Homo sapiens: one gene and its partner. The protein of the gene in region 2 purifies or fractionates together with the protein of the main gene of each other region. This does not show direct contact. Each region holds a gene or a part of one and is shown on either strand. Other genes may lie near its edges.

What was found.
Region 1: the proteins of WDR24 (region 2) and SEC13 purify together in Homo sapiens (affinity purification with mass spectrometry; 7 studies listed by BioGRID and IntAct, with this or other methods). This does not show direct contact.

Annotation. Positions count from the first base shown.
Region 1 is NC_000003.12:10,314,437-10,318,343, reverse strand, and holds part of SEC13 (protein SEC13 homolog), read left to right. Parts: intron 1-249; coding exon 250-294; intron 295-2,907; coding exon 2,908-3,023; intron 3,024-3,907. UniProt on the Homo sapiens protein: Functions as a component of the nuclear pore complex (NPC) and the COPII coat. At the endoplasmic reticulum, SEC13 is involved in the biogenesis of COPII-coated vesicles.
Region 2 is NC_000016.10:683,989-687,572, reverse strand, and holds the end of WDR24 (GATOR2 complex protein WDR24), read left to right. Parts: coding exon 1-11; intron 12-156; coding exon 157-829; intron 830-1,386; coding exon 1,387-1,505; intron 1,506-1,582; coding exon 1,583-1,704; intron 1,705-1,789; coding exon 1,790-1,894; intron 1,895-1,975; coding exon 1,976-2,316; intron 2,317-2,396; coding exon 2,397-2,581; intron 2,582-2,670; coding exon 2,671-2,839; 3' UTR 2,840-2,951; downstream 2,952-3,584. Other genes in the region: JMJD8 (jmjC domain-containing protein 8 isoform 1 precursor), read left to right, coding at 3,254-3,339, 3,418-3,507. UniProt on the Homo sapiens protein: Catalytic component of the GATOR2 complex, a multiprotein complex that acts as an activator of the amino acid-sensing branch of the mTORC1 signaling pathway. The GATOR2 complex indirectly activates mTORC1 through the inhibition of the GATOR1 subcomplex.

The DNA of each region.
Region 1 (3,907 bases), on a different chromosome or scaffold from region 2:
CACCATTAAATAATTTATCTTGCGACACTAGCATTATTCGCGAGCTTCTCAAGGGCAAAAAGTTCCTCTTATTTGTGTCTGTATATCCAGTTCCTAGCACAGTGCTTGGCAGAAAGAAGGTACTTAGAATGAATGCTTACTGAATGAATGAATGAATGAGTGAGTGAACAAACAAATGCAGTCAAGAACTTGAGATGGTTGTATTCTAACTGCCATGAGTTAATTTACCAGTGATATCTTTGGTTCTAGGTGTCAGTAATTAACACTGTGGATACCTCCCATGAGGACATGATTGTAAGTATTAATATCACCCTCCCTGGAGGGGTGTGGACATGGGCATTTTTGTGGGAGGGAAGCAATTTGGGGTTTTCATTACCCCTTTCTGTTGATCATTCATGGATCCAGGGTGGCTTTGCAGTGGTTGCCTATCAGCCTGTAATCTCGGGGTATGGCAGGCTCCCTAGCAGTGCCCTCTGAGTTGTCAGGACTGTGGCAGTCTAATCACTCTCTGCTGGGAGGAACCTGGGAATAATTTGTAGTTCTAGGCTGTCAGTCTTCCAGCCAATACAATAACCTGCTCTCGGATGAAGGCTGAGTGGGTACGGAGGCTTGACAATAGTCTTCCCACCTGTCTTCCTCCTGCTGTCACTTCTTAGCCCCACTGGAAAGGGGGGTGAAAAGAAGAGAGTGTAGAAAGATGACTCAATACAAAGGCAGAGGGCAGCCACAGTGAAAGCCCCAGGCAGAGCCCAGTCAAACCACCAAGACAATAGGCCAGACAAGGCCCTTTGAACCAGAAGTCCACACTCAGGGCATTTCCTGAGAGGTAAACACAAGGCTCAGTATAAGAGGACAGGGCTGCAGGAGAAGGTCCAGAGGTTAAAGTCTACCGCAGGAAAAACACAGACTCTGCTTCATTCAGGGCCAAGCAGCCTTTGAGCAAGACCCAGGACAGCTGGCTGACAGTGTTTCATGTCAGGGTTCTTGCCCTCACAACCTGTCCACCAACAGTTGCTTTTGGGTTTCTGAGAGGTTGTCTGGTCCCAGAGTTGTATATGTTCTCTGGATTCAGTCATGAGTGGTCTAGCTGTAAGACCACACCTCCTTGGAGATAGCATGGAATCATGGGCAGGAAGACCCAGTCTGAGACTCCCTAGCCAATATCTTAACTTTTCTGAGCCAGCCTCAATTTACTTACGGGAAAAATAATGGATATGCTACCTACTCGTATGAGTTTGGTTTGAGAACTAGATGAGGCCAAGTAGTAATGACAAACATTTGCATGCTCACTGAGTGTCAGGCCCCATGCTAAGTACTTTTCTTTTTTTTTTTTTTTTTTTTTGAGATGGAGTTTCGCTCTTGTAGCCCAGGCTGGCATGCAGTGGCGTGATCTCAGCTCACCGCAACCTACGCCTCCCGGGTTCAAGTAATTCTCCTGCCCCAGACTCCCGAGTAGCTGGGATTACAGGCGTGCGCCACCACTCCCAGCTAATTTTGTATTTTTAGTAGAGGCAAGTTTTCTCCATGTTGGTCAGGCTAGTCTCGAACTCCCGACCTCAGGTGATCCGCCCGCCTCAGCTTCCCAAAGTGCTGGGATTACAGGCGTGAGTTTTCATTCAATATCTTGTTTAACCTTCATAACAACTGTTGAGACAGATGCTATCTTTAGCCTTATTTAAAGATAAGGGAACTAAGGCCCATAGGATGTTGGTAAATAATAAAGATAAGGAAACTGAAGCTCAAGGAGATGAAGTGTTTTCAAAGTTTGCACAGCAGGTAAACTAAGGAGATAGGATTTAGATCTGAAAGGTACTATGTCCTGCCTCCTTCCACTGAGAAGCATGAGAAGTGCTTCAGAAACACTCCTCTACTGCCTGCCCTCCAAGAAACCAAGGCCTGATACAGTGGAGGGAGTTCCCAAAGAAAAATCAGGATGTGTTCCTTGCGTAGGGAGGTGAGAATTCCCATCTGAGCCAGACAGAATGAGTGCCTTTGAATGGGCATAATTGCCCCTGGTGGCCATGGGAGTGCAGCTGATAGTCCTGAAACTCCCAGGGTGGGACAGCTGGGGAAAGGGACATCCATTGGAATAGGCAGGGCCAGCAAGCAGAAGGGACCAGGGTGTTCAGTGGTGCAGGAGGCATGGTGCCTCAGAGACCATCACCCTGCGGACAAGGATCTGCAGGTAGGGGCCAGGCCTAGTTCTGCATGCTCAGTCAGCATCAAGGAATTCGGTTCACAAGTGGTGAGAGCAGCGACACTTAAGGCATTGTGTTCCTTGGGTGGAAAGTCTGGGAAGCTCTGGGCACACTACTAGGGAAAAGGTCGAGCAGAAGCCCCAAAACAAAGGTCCACAAAGGATCCAGGGCCAGGGCTGGAAAGAGCCCAAATATCTGAATGGAACCCTGTGTGCAGGCCAGAGCTGCATCACAGAAGACCTGACTGGGGACTCCAGGCAGTCAGAGGCCCACTCCTTTGGCCTGCTCCCATGCATTAGCATCAGGTGCTAGGGCTGAGCTGAACCCAGGGGTATTCCCCTTTAGCCCACAGAGCCTAAGAACTGAATAGGGCCTGAGAGGATGGAGGAAGAAGAGGGCAGCTAGGCCAACTTTTTTTCTCCCATACCCACCCTGCGGAACAGGAATGGAAGAGCCCTTCCCTGAGGTATGTAAAGGGTCTGTGACACCAGCTGGGCATGGCTTGCTTTGTCCATTTCAGAGAGACACTGCCCATAGGTGAAGTGAGAATGTCCACATGCTAGCTTCCTGCCTGAGGGTGATGATACTTTGAGATCAGATTGATTTCAGGGAGATTCTGGTCCAAACTAGACTCTGTGTAGTGACAGCCCTCACCCCACCCACCCACCCACCCAGCCTGCAGGCTTCCCGAGCTGTCCTCCCTTTGCAGCACGACGCCCAGATGGACTACTATGGCACCCGCCTGGCAACCTGCTCATCAGACAGGTCCGTCAAAATCTTTGATGTGCGCAATGGAGGGCAGATCCTTATCGCCGACCTCAGGGGGTAAGTGCTGGCGAGCCCAGGGAAGGGCTCCAGGAATGGTGTGGGTTCTCAGGCCCTGCTTCAAGCGTGGGAGCAAAGCATGGGAGCCCAGATTCAGAGCAACCCCAAAGCACATTTAGCGGAGAGGACGCTGGGATCCCAGCCAGCCTGGCTGTCCTCAGCGGACGTCCCCAGGGATGATGCTGTTAAGGGCACAGGTGGATACAGGTGTGAATCTCAGCTCTGCCACTTTATGTGTACCCACCAGAAGACCTTGGGCAAGTGACTCAGTTTCTCTCTCAGAGCCTTCATCTGCTCATCCTCAAAATTGGGCCAATGCTACCTCCTATCCAGCTAGTGTATGCAAGGCCCTGACACAGGGCCCAGGACACAGTAAGTCTTTAGTGCAGGCAGCTACTGCTACTTTTAAAAGTGGTAAACAGTACCATTTCGTTCAAGTTTAGCCAGTATGACCTAAAGTGTCACAAAAGCATCACCGTAAGAATAATGTAAGAATGCTATCATTTTATAAATCCCATTGTTCTGCCTATATGCCCGTGGCACGTGTTCAGTGATTATTTACAAATGTTTGACCTGCCCTGCTCCCTACTGAGATTCTTGAGGAAGTCCTGGCTCATTTTTATGGCCACATCTCTACTGCTTTCCCTCAGCTCACTGCCTTTCACGTATTTGTGGGTTTGCCTGGGTGCCGTGGATCTCCAAGGGTTCTGTGAATAGAGTTCAGGGGTTGATGAATTGGGACAGGGGGAAAAAAATGCATTTTCAGTGACTCTGATATTTAGCATTTCCTTCAATTATGGATGTAGGCCAGAAACTTCAGTAGTATTTGTAGTGCCTGTCACTTTGTCACCAGTAGAATTCACAGATATTGTCATCACACATCA
Region 2 (3,584 bases):
CCCGAGGACAGGTGTGGCATGGGGGTGCAGGGGCAGTAGGTTGACAGTAAGCTCTCACTGCCTCAGATCCATGAGACAGTCCGGAGCAGCAGAGCGGGGGGGTCCCCTCTCTGCAGGAAAGGCCACTGAGGGTTTGGGTGGACCTTCTTCCCACAGGGGCTGGTTGGCCACTGGAGGGCGCGACAAGATGGTGAAGGTCTGGGACATGACCACGCACCGTGCCAAGGAGATGCACTGTGTGCAGACCATCGCCTCGGTGGCCCGTGTGAAGTGGCGGCCAGAGTGCCGCCACCACCTGGCCACGTGCTCCATGATGGTGGACCACAACATCTATGTTTGGGACGTGCGCCGGCCCTTCGTGCCAGCTGCCATGTTTGAGGAACACCGAGACGTCACCACGGGAATTGCCTGGCGCCACCCCCACGACCCCTCCTTCCTGCTGTCTGGCTCCAAGGACAGCTCGCTGTGCCAGCACCTGTTCCGCGACGCCAGCCAGCCCGTCGAGCGCGCCAACCCTGAGGGCCTCTGCTACGGCCTCTTCGGGGACCTGGCCTTCGCCGCCAAGGAGAGCCTCGTGGCTGCCGAGTCGGGGCGCAAGCCCTACACTGGCGACCGGCGCCACCCCATCTTCTTTAAGCGCAAGCTGGACCCTGCCGAGCCCTTCGCAGGCCTCGCCTCCAGTGCCCTCAGTGTCTTTGAGACGGAGCCAGGTGGCGGCGGCATGCGCTGGTTTGTGGACACAGCTGAGCGTTATGCGCTGGCTGGCCGGCCACTGGCCGAGCTCTGTGACCACAACGCAAAGGTGGCTCGAGAGCTTGGCCGCAACCAGGTAGGTAGGTGCTGAGCCTGGGGGTCCCTGGGCCACGACCTCAGGGCAGGGGCTGGTTCCTCCGTCAGCTGCGCTCACCCCACCTCAAGCTCCGCAATGGACTCCAGCCAGTCGCACCAACAGGCCTTGCCTTGGTAGCTGAGGGTGTCAGGATCACACAGGGCCAGGGCTCCAGGGTGGGCCAGACCCAGGACTGTCCTCTGAGGGGCGGGGGTCTCGGGAGTCGTGTGGCTCAAGCTCTCTGTTCTTCCCCCCTTGCTTCTGGAGCTCTCCAGGCACCAGCAGCGGTGGAGCCGTGAGCTGCCGTTCCCATGCCCATCTCTAGCTGCCCCGCAAGTCCCCACTGCCCAATTCTGTTTTCCTCTGTGCTGCTGTAGGGCGGGGACCGGGGTTTTTGTCTTTCCCATGAGCCTCAGCTTTCCTACCTGGGGTGGGCCTGGACATTGGGTACTGAGGGCAGCTGAATGCTGAGGGCTTGTGACTGTCCAGGCAGAGAGGGACCTGCATGGGGTGCTGGGTGTCCAGGACGCCCACAAGTGACCAGTGCCCGCCCCTAGGTGGCGCAAACGTGGACCATGCTGCGGATCATCTACTGCAGCCCTGGCCTAGTGCCCACTGCAAACCTCAACCACAGTGTGGGCAAGGGTGGCTCCTGTGGCCTCCCGCTCATGAACAGGTAGATGCCGGGGGCAGCTCTCCCCAGGGGCTGGGGCTGCTCGAGCCCACCCACCCATGGGCCCTTCCTGCCCCCAGTTTCAACCTGAAGGATATGGCCCCAGGGTTGGGCAGTGAGACGCGGCTGGACCGCAGCAAAGGAGATGCACGGAGCGACACAGTTCTGCTCGACTCCTCGGCCACACTCATCACCAATGAGGGTAGGCTGGGGTGGGTAGGGGTGCTGATGGGAGAGGGGTGGGGGTGTCCCAGACGACCCTGAATGCCCGCCCCATTGTCGGGCAGATAACGAGGAAACCGAGGGCAGCGACGTACCTGCCGACTACCTGCTGGGTGACGTGGAAGGTGAGGAGGACGAGCTGTACCTGCTGGATCCGGAACACGCGCACCGTGAGTGGGGGTCCGGGCAGGGTGGGGTTCAGAGGCGGATGGAGGACAGACTCAGAGCCTCCGCTGGTCCCTGCCTTCCAGCCGAGGACCCTGAGTGCGTGCTGCCGCAGGAGGCCTTTCCGCTGCGCCACGAGATCGTGGACACGCCTCCCGGGCCCGAGCACCTGCAGGACAAGGCCGACTCCCCGCACGTGAGCGGCAGCGAGGCGGATGTGGCCTCCCTGGCCCCCGTGGACTCCTCCTTCTCGCTCCTGTCTGTCTCACACGCGCTCTACGACAGCCGCCTGCCGCCCGACTTCTTCGGCGTGCTGGTGCGCGACATGCTGCACTTCTACGCTGAGCAGGGCGACGTGCAGATGGCTGTGTCTGTGCTCATCGTCCTGGGTGAACGGGTGCGCAAGGACATCGACGAGCAGACCCAGGTGTGTGGTGGGCGGGGCCTCCCCCCTGCAGCGCCGCCCCTGGCACCCAGATCCTGACTGCCGGGCGCTCCCTCCCCCAGGAGCACTGGTACACTTCCTACATCGACCTGCTGCAGCGCTTCCGCCTCTGGAACGTGTCCAACGAGGTGGTCAAGCTGAGCACCAGCCGCGCCGTCAGCTGCCTCAACCAGGCCTCCACCACCCTGCACGTCAACTGCAGCCACTGCAAGCGGCCCATGAGCAGCCGGGGCTGGGTCTGCGACAGGTGGGGCAGTGGGGTCGGGAGGTGGGGCAGGGGCCTGCAGGCAGCGCAGCAGCCCCCGCTGAGGCACCCTCCCTCCCGCCCGCCCCCAGGTGCCACCGCTGCGCCAGCATGTGTGCCGTCTGCCACCACGTAGTCAAGGGTCTCTTCGTGTGGTGCCAGGGCTGCAGCCACGGCGGCCACCTGCAGCACATCATGAAGTGGCTGGAAGGCAGCTCCCACTGTCCCGCAGGCTGCGGCCACCTCTGCGAGTACTCCTGACGGGGCATCTGCTGGGCTTGCCCGGGCGGCCGCGTGCAGAACCCCGCCTGGTCTTGTGCCCGAGACGGGCGGAGGCTGGAACTTGAGACCTCAATAAAGGAAGTAGAGCCGCTGTCGGCACTGCGTGTCACCCCATAGCGCGGCGGGCTCGCCGTAGGCCCGCGGGGCAGCTGGCGGGCGGGGGCTTTCGGCGGGGTTGTCGCCATGGTAACCGGCGGCGCCCATAGTCGCTCTCGGGGCGGCCTTCCCAGTGCCTCCCGTAGAGGCCTCTTCCGGGGCGGGCCAAAGGAGGTCACTTCCGGGGTCCGTCCCGGTTCCCGGCCGTTGCCACGACGACGAAGCTGCCGGCCAATGGCTGGCGGATGGGCCCAAGGTTCCCGGCGTGCAGCGCGGCTGCCTGAGGGCGGCAGGCTCATGGCGCCGGCGTCGCGGTTGCTCGCGCTCTGGGCGCTGGCGGCTGTGGCTCTACCCGGCTCCGGGGCGGAGGGCGACGGCGGGTGGTGAGCGGCCCGGGAGGGGCCGGGCGGTGGGGTCACGTGCGGCGGGCGGGGCGCGGGCTGACCCAGCTGTGCCCGCAGGCGCCCGGGCGGGCCGGGGGCCGTGGCGGAGGAGGAGCGCTGCACGGTGGAGCGTCGGGCCGACCTCACCTACGCGGAGTTCGTGCAGCAGTACGTGCGCCCCTGATCGCGGAGGTCGCGTCCTGTTCACCGGCCCGTCTGCCCCGACCGCCCAAGGCCGCCTTCCC